Linked DNA regions of Homo sapiens: regions 1 and 2 are each linked to region 3. The links come from fine-mapping of genetic effects on gene expression. A gene starts in region 3. Each other region holds a variant in brackets. All regions are shown on one strand. Distances are from middle to middle.

The links. PIP is the estimated chance that this variant, and not a neighbour inherited with it, causes the effect.
Region 1: its variant is fine-mapped to the expression of CPAMD8 in whole blood (TOPMed, PIP above 0.99). The same link has a PIP of 0.9 or more in T cells.
Region 2: its variant is fine-mapped to the expression of CPAMD8 in fibroblasts (GTEx, PIP 0.99).

Annotation. Positions count from the first base shown.
Region 1 is chr19:17,000,723-17,003,470 of GRCh38, reverse strand. It overlaps CPAMD8 (C3 and PZP like alpha-2-macroglobulin domain containing 8), which reads left to right. Exons shown (of 42, transcript NM_015692.5): 9 at 1,121-1,205. Among named protein-coding and RNA genes, the nearest start is that of CPAMD8, 25 kb to the left of the region's middle. The variant T/C (reference allele first, on the strand shown) is at 1,496.
Region 2 is chr19:16,894,986-16,897,733 of GRCh38, reverse strand. CPAMD8 (C3 and PZP like alpha-2-macroglobulin domain containing 8) reads left to right here. Exons shown (of 42, transcript NM_015692.5): 39 at 1-43; 40 at 1,069-1,278; 41 at 1,408-1,558. Among named protein-coding and RNA genes, the nearest start is that of F2RL3, 7.4 kb to the right of the region's middle. RefSeq lists silencers at 1-468, 539-758, 809-888. The variant G/A (reference allele first, on the strand shown) is at 1,182.
Region 3 is chr19:17,025,553-17,028,300 of GRCh38, reverse strand. It overlaps CPAMD8 (C3 and PZP like alpha-2-macroglobulin domain containing 8), which reads left to right and starts at 1,491. Exons shown (of 42, transcript NM_015692.5): 1 at 1,491-1,750. The coding sequence starts at 1,659. RefSeq lists an enhancer at 411-1,319.

The DNA.
Region 1 (2,748 bases), 25 kb after region 3:
ATCCCAACACTTTGGGAAGCTGAGGCTGGAGGATCGCTTGAGGCCAGGAGTTTGAGACCAGCCTGGACAACATAGTCCCTGTCTGTATAAAACTTTAAAACAATTATCTGGACATGGTGGCACGTGCCTGTAGTCCCCGCTACTCGGGAAGCTGAGGCGGGAGGATTGCTTGAGCCCAGGAGATCAAGGCTGCAGTGAACTGTGATTGCACCACTATTCTCCAGTTTGGGTGACAAAGTGAGACCCTGTCTCAGAAAAAAAAAAAGGTGGCCAGGCATGGCAGCTAACGTCTGTAATCCCAGCACTTTGGGAGGCTGAGGTGGGTAGATCACTAGAGGTCAGGAGTTCAAGACCAGGCTGGCCAACATGGTGAAACCCCATCTCTACTAAAAATACAAAAATTAGCCAGGCGTGGTGGCATGTGCCTGCAGTCCCAGCTACTTGGGAGGCTGAGGCAGGAGAATTGCTTGAACCAGGAGGAGGAGGTTGCAGTGAGCCAAGATCGTGCCACTGCACACCAACCTGGGAAACACAGTGACAATCTGTCTCAAAAAAAAAAAGAAAAGAAAAGAAAAGAAAAGAAAGAACGAAAAGATTCTTAGGCTCCTACAAGAGTTCTCTCAGGACCCGATTCTTTCTGGTTTACCGGCTGCTCCAGGGTGTCACCTCCGCCCCTGGTGACAAGATGGCTTGATACTCCCAGGGCTGAGTCCAGAAGCAAATGGAGAAATCAGCTCTCTGTTGCAGTCACCCTGGGGATGCCCCTTGTTGGCTCCCAGGGCCACCTCTATCCCATGCACAGACACAGGGGCTAGGAGGAGCCTCCTGGCCTCGTGTCCACCCTGGGATAGGCTGGAATCCGCCACACTCTAAGCACGTGGTCTAAAAGTGACAGGGGAGGCCCCTTGAGGAAAATGGGGTCCTAGTCCCCCAAAGATGAGAAATAGATGCAGCCCACAAAATCCCCAGGGCTGCTCAGCAGAGTGGTGTGGATGGGTACAGTGTCAACCTCGGTGGTGGCCAGGTGCTGTGGTCCTCAGACACCTTGCACCGGTGTCAGGGCTCCTGAGGCCACCTTAGGGACAGAAGCCAGCCCCTCCTCTCTGCTTGCTTTCTTCAGTGTTGCCCAAGTTTGAGCTTCTGATTGACCCGCCCCGGTATATCCAAGACCTGGACGCCTGTGAGACAGGCACTGTGCGGGCCAGGTGAGAAAGAGGGACCCCTGGGGCACACTGGGGGGGCCCTTCCCCTTCCCCAACCATCACGCTGCTCCCTCAAGGTCGTTCCCCTCCTCTGCTGCCTCCCTCCCTCCCACATGGGTGTGCCCCTCCCTTCCTGGTTCCCTCCTCCCTGGGGTGTGCCCCTCCCCTAGTGCATCTCCCTTCCTGTGACTCTCTCCAGTAGGCGCCCCCTCCTCAGGAGGTGCCCCTCCCCCTAGAGTATCTCCCTCCCCACCAGGCTCCTCCCCTGTGGGCGCCTCCTCCCTGGGGTGTCC[T/C]CCTCCCTCTAAAGTATCTCCCTCCCTGCTGGGCTCCTCCCCTGTGGGTTCCCCTCCCCAGGATGTGGCCACCCGCTAGAGCATCATCCTTTCCCGTGCCCCTCCCCTGGGGGCACCCCCTCCCTGGAGTGTACCCCTTTCCCTAGAGCATCTTCCTCCCCCTGGGCCCCTCCTCTGCCCTCCCCTTCCATCTCCCCCAACAACCGGGCTTCCCCCTCCTCCTACAGGCAGACACTTCTTCCATGGCCTCCCTGCTCCCACAAGGGTGCCCTGTGCCCCGCTCCCTCCCTAGTACTCGGTGTCTCCCTGCCACATGAGTCTCTTGCACTCTACCCACTGCCTGTCTTTGTTTCCATGCTGGTGTCCTCACCCCTATGAGCACGCCCCTGTCTCTCCAAAGCATGCCCCTCTCCCGCTGTGTATTCCTTCCTCAAGTCCTGCCCTTCCACTCTAAGTTCTTCCCTCCCCAAGGGTCTCCCCTCCCCAAAGAATGCCCTACCCCCCAGGGTGTGACCCTCCCAACCCCACCATGTTCCCCTCTCCCCCAAGGCTGCTCCCCGCCCTCTGCAGGCCTCCCTGGCATCCAACAGCACCCCCGCCAGTGTGCTGACCCGAGAGGGGTTGATCCTTGTTTTTTTTTTTTTTTTTTTTTTTTCAGACGGAGTCTTACTCTGTCGCCCAGGCTGGAGTGTAGTGACAGTCTCAGCTCTCTGCAACCTCTGCCTACCGGGCTCAATTGATTCTCCTGCCTCAGCTTCTCCTAGTAGCTGGGATCACAAGCATGTGCCACCACACCCAACTAATTTTTGTATTTTTAGTAGAGACAGAGTTTCACCATGTTGGCCAGGCTGGTCTCGAACTCCTGACCTCAAGTGATCTGCCCACCTTGGCCTCCCAAAGTGCTGGGATTACAGGCATAAGCCACCATGCCCAGCCTGCACTCTCTCATTTTGCTCCTGTTCCCCATCCACCAGCATTCCCTCTGCATCAGGAGTGACATACAGACATTTAAGTTTCACTATCACCCCTGAGAGGGTAGTTTGAGTCCCATTCTCTGGGTGAGGAAACAGGCTCAGAGAAGTTCGGTCCTTGGTTCAAAGTCGAGCTTAATAGGGCGCTTAGGCTCAGGTGCCTCTCAGTCGCTCATGCCTCTGCACTACTCTGCTCCAGAGGTGGCACCAACCTAGCCTTCTCAGTTCCAGAGTTCCTCTCTGACCCTTGGTCTCTTTTTCTGTCCATCTGGAGGCTTGGTG
Region 2 (2,748 bases), 130 kb after region 3:
CCCGCGTGCAACGAAGTGGAGCGCGCCCCTGCCCGGGGCCCGGGTGAGTGCGCGGAGCCACTGCCGCCCCCCACCGCGGCCTGCCACACCCCGACTCCCACCCTCGGACGCCAGGGAGGGCTCCCCTGGGGGCTTGGCAGAGGAGGGGCCAACGTAAAGTCAGGAGAACGCAGCATAGAGGTGGGCGGGCGCTCTGCCTGTACGGGGGAGGCGGGGCTGGAGGAGCGGTCAGCGGGGAGGGGCGTGGCTGGGGGAGTGGTAAGTGCGGAAGGGAAGTGGCTGGGGAATGGTCAGTATACTGGGGGCAGGGCCGAGCCAGTGAGGGTGTGGTCACTGTGGTGGGGACTGGGCGCAATGGGTTGAGGGTGGTCAGTGTGGTGAGGGCGGGGTCGAGCGGCGAGGGGGAGGTGAGTGCGGAGGGTGCGGGGTTGAGGGCGGGTGTGTTCAGTGCGGGGGGCGGGGCCGAACGGGGTGGGTGTGGTCAGTGCGAAGGGGACGGGGTTGAGAGTGGATGTGGTTAGTGCTGAGGGGATGAGGTTGCGGTGGGTGTGGTCAGTGCGGGGGGCGGGGTCGAGGGTGGGTGCGGTCAGCGCTGAGGGGCGGGATTTGTGGTGGGTGTGGTCAGTGCGGAGGGGGCGGGGTTAAGAGTGGTCAGGACGGAGGGGGCGGGGTTGAGGGTAGGTGTGGTCACCGCGGAGGGGGCGGGGTTGAGGATAGGAGCGGTCAGTGCGGTGGGGGTGGGGTTGGGGTGGGTGTGGTCAGTGCGGAGGAGGCGCGGCAGGGGACGGGGCTGTTGTTGCAGGGCGGCCCAGACAGGACGCCCTGTCTCCTTTCTCTCCTACAACCGCTTTTTAAAAGTCTGTTTCTGTTTTTGTAAGTATTAGGCAAATACCTGCGTGAAATTCCATAAGGCCAGGGCTCAGGACCTCCCATTAACTGTCGCGCCCCAAGACCCACCGAGGGGGTAGTGGGCCCGGGACCCAGGGACATCTTCCCCACCCCCAGGTTCTGTGGGGGCGCGGGCAAGGTTCAGGGTGGGGGGTCTGTCGAGCCTGCCTCGTCCCCCAGGCTGGTTCCCCGGCGAGTCGGGCCCTGCCGTGGCCCCTGAGGAGGGGGCGGCGATCGCGCGATGCGGCTGCGACCACGACTGCGGCGCCCAGGGGAACCCGGTGTGCGGCTCC[G/A]ACGGGGTGGTCTACGCCAGCGCCTGCCGCCTGCGGGAGGCCGCCTGCCGCCAGGCCGCGCCCCTGGAGCCCGCGCCTCCCAGCTGCTGCGCCCTCGGTGAGGACCCTACCCCCCGCCTAGCCTCGGGGACACCATCGCTGCTGCTCTGGGCCACGGATCTCCTCCCCTCGGCCCTTGGGTCCCCTCCCCGCCACGCCCTCCCGACCGAGGCCCCCTTCCTTCCAGAGCAGCGGCTGCCGGCCTCGTCGTCCTCCACCTACGGGGATGACCTGGCTTCTGTGGCCCCGGGGCCTTTACAGCAGGACGTGAAGCTGAATGGAGCCGGCCTTGAGGTGGAGGACTCAGACCCTGAGCCTGAAGGGGAGGCGGAGGACAGGTAACAGCTGGGCCCACCCCAGAGATAAGAGACATAGGCTCAATATCTCCCCACCTCCCTCCCCTACCAACCTCCCCCGACGACCTGCCCCGACTCCTCCGCCCCGCCCCGACCCCCCACTGGCAGTGGGAGTGACTCAGGGTCAGAGGCTCAGAGTTCCTGGGGACAAAGTGGGACATTCATCCTCCCTCCACCCTGGCCCACGCAACACCCACCAGCGAACAGCTGTGCGCGGGCGCACGCGCGCGTGTGTGTGTGTGTGTGTGTGTGTGCGTGCGCGCGCGCGCGCGCATACGGGTCAAGGATCCCTTATCCGAAATGCTGGGGGGACCAGCAGTGTTTCGGATTTCAGATTTTTTCACATTTCAGAATGCTTGCATTATATAGTTAGCTAAGGTTCAGCATCCCTAATCTAAAAATCTGAAATGCCCCAATGAGCATTGCCTTTGAGCACGTCAAGTCGCTGCTCAAAAAGACTTGGATTTTGGAACATTTCAGATTTAGGATTTTTGGACTAGGGAAGTTTTGCCTGTAGTTAACAGTGTGCGGTTTCCTCATGGGCAGATTTGTGTAATCTCAACCATAGTCAACAAACAGCCCATCTGCACAGGATCCTTCCAGCTGCTCTTCCATAACTTCATCTCTCCCCTCAACACCTGCAACCACTAAGCCATTTTCCCCCTACCCGTCTGTAATTTTGTTATTTTGAGAATGCCAGGTAAATGGAATCAGAGCGGATAATCTTTGGAGCATGATTCCCTTGCATTCACCTGTGTTGTTTCGTGTATCCATAGTTTATTCTTTTTTTAATCTGGGCTCACTGCAATCTCCGCCTCCTGGGTTCAAGCGATTCTCCTGTCTCAGCCTCCCCAGAAGCTGGGATTACAGGGGCCCGCCACCATGCCCGGCTAATTTTTTTTGTATTTTTAGTAGAGGTGGGGTTTCACCATGTTGGCCAGGCTGGTCTTGAACTCTTGACCTCAGGTGATCCACCCGCGTTGGCCTCCCAAAGCGCTGGTATTGCAGGCATGAGCCACCATGCCAGGCCTATTCTTTTATTTTTCAAACGAGGTCTCACTGTGTTGCCCAGGCTGGAGTGTAGTGGCGTGGTCATGGCTCACTGCAGCCTTGACCTCCTGAGCTCAAGTGATCCTCTTGCCTCAGCCTCCTGAGTAGCTGGGACCACAGGC
Region 3 (2,748 bases):
AGTGTTGGGTCCAAAGGCTGTTGACAGGGCTGAGAAGCCCCCAGAGGACCCACATCCCTAGGGGCAGGGAGGGGGCAAGAGAAGCTTCCCTTGAGTTTCCTGGAAGGATCAGGAGTTGGACTGGCAAAGGAGGCAGGTAGAGGAAGACAGAGATTAGGCAGAAGCAGGCAGTGGAGTAAGAACAGGGTGTTGGAGGAACTAGGCTGAGGTCTCTGCCATCAAAGCCAGAGTTTAGATTTGGTCTCAATAAACGGGAAGCCCTGGCTGGATGTGGTGGCTCACACCTGTAATCCCAGCACTTTGGGAGGCTGAGGAGGGAGGATCATTTGAGCCCAGTGCTCAAGACCAGCCTGGGCAACACAGTGCGACTCCGTTTCTAAAAAAAAATATATAAAAATTAGCTGGGTGCGGGCTTGCACCTGTAGTCCCAGCTACTCTCCAGGAGTCTGAAGCTGCAGTGAGCTGTGACTGCACCACTAAATTCCTGCCTGGGCAACAGAGCAAAACTCTGGTCTCAAAACATAAAAATAAAATGTAAAATAAACAGGGAGCCCCGAGGATTCCGGGCAGGAGGGGGTGTGGTCAGCACTGGAATTTTAGAAGAAGGGCAGTTGGTAGCTGGGGGAAGGGGGTTCCACACTGGAAGGAGGGGGTCCAGGACTTGGACATGGTATAGGATGTGCCGCCTGCCAGTGGGACCTAGGACAGCAGGACCATCACTGAGGTGGCCACACGGGGAGGGGCAGGAGGGGACACCCTGCTCTTGGAGAGAAAGGGGGTGCCCATCCACCCCTGCTGTATGAAGGGGAAAGGGGGACTCTGAGGCCCAGCGAGAGAGGGGACGGGCCCAAGGGATTTGTGGACAGTGGGGGTGGGGGAGAGGGGAGCAGAGAGCACAGATAGGGACCTGGGGCAGATGTGAGTCTGGGAGGTTCGACCCCTGGCTAGACTGTTTCCCCAAAGGGTCCTCTGCTCCTTGGGCTGTACGCACTGCACTGGGCACTAGATACAGGCCAGGGCTTAGGGCACGGCGGCGCCTGTGGGATCGGGGTTGCAGGCGGCGTCCAGACCCAGGGGCCCCTGGTGAGGGGCGGGCCCGGGGAGGGGGCCATAAGGGGCTGGCTGGGGAGGGAGGGAGGGAGAGGCCAGGGAAGGGACAGGTTCCGAGTGGACGCTGGGTGGAGAGGAGAGGGAGAGTGGGGGCGGTGGGGGGTCGGGTCCGAGGCGGGGCTGGTGGGGAGGGGGGCATCCGGGGGCGAATCCGGGTAGGGGGTGAGGAGGCGGGTTCGGAAGGAATCGGGCAGGGCCCGGGTGGGTCCGGTGAGTAAGTGAGGGGACGATCCCCGGAAGGGATCGGGGCGGGTCGGGGTCCGGAGATGGGCGGAGCAGGCGTCCCGGGAGGGTGCGCCCAGGAGCGGGGCGAGCGGGGCGAGCGGGGCGGTCCCGGAGACGAGGCGGGTCCGGGGAGGGGGCTGGCCCGGGGCTGCCCCAGCTTGGCCGGGCGCGGAGCGGGGCGCATGGCGCCGGGCGCACTGCGCGGGGGCTGCGAACAAAGGGCCCCCGGCGGCGGCGCGAGGACGGCCGCGCTCGGACCCTGGCCCTGGCCCAGCCCTGGCCCGGCCCCCTCCCCAGGCGCGGCGCCCCCCAGGAGCCGAAAAATGAGCGGCGCCCTGCTCTGGCCGTTGCTCCCGCTCCTGCTCCTGCTGCTGTCGGCGCGGGACGGCGTGCGCGCCGCGCAGCCTCAGGCCCCGTGAGTATCCTCCGGCGACAGAGGAGGTCGGTCGCCTTCTGGGGTGGGGGTCGCGGGTACTGGCTCAGAGTGTTGCAGCGACCTGCCCAAGGCCACACAGCCTCCGCGCTGGGCTGGACCTGGCCTCTTGTTCCCGAATCGTCTTGAGGAGGGGGCGCCCTAAAGTTTCCGAAGTGGCTCTGTGGAGGTACAGGGACTCCCAAAAGCTAAAGGTGCTGAGGTCAGCTCCCCCCGCCCCACCTCGCCCCCTTCGTGTGACCCGGGCTGTCATCATGGGTGGCGATTTCCAGTTGTCCAAGGTATGAAGGTAAGAGGAGCGTCTTGGCTGAGAAGTGGGAGGAGAGTGCGAAGGGGCACTTTCCCGTGGGTGGGCGTGGTGAGGGAGGAGGAAGTGTTTGTTTTGCTTCTACATTTTTCTAGAGGTTTGCTTGCAGGCTTCTGGTGGGTTGACAGCGGGGAGAAGGTGAATTAACTAACTGCTGGGGAGTACTGCTAAGTTGGCTTCACAGAGAATATTTCTAAACCTGGCAAGTTCGGGTGAGCTCTGCAGGGCTGCGGGTTCAGGGGGGCTGCCCTGGTCTGCACAAGACCAGCCTTTTAGTCCAGCTGGGCGTTTAGAAGGCGGCTTGTTCAAGCAGCCCTTGTTTAGGAGTTTCCAGAAAACTGGTAAGCAGTGAGACTAGGTGGGTGTCGTTATTTGCAGTGAGTAGTTGGTCCTTGCTGGTCACAGTTTTAAAAGCAAGACAGTCTACTGCGCTCTGAGCATCCAGACTTCCCTCTCCTAGGCTTCGTGAAATCGGAACCCTACAAATTTTCATCCTAATGCTTCTTTCAAAGCTGGCATCCCTTAGAATAGTGGTTCTCAGCCCTGGGGGGGATTTTTGTCTCCCTGAGGCCGCTGGGAAATGTCTGGAGGTATTTTTGGTTGTCACAAATAGGGAGAGGCATTTGGTGTTGGCATTAAGTGGGTGCAGGCCAGGAATGCTGGTAAACAGCTT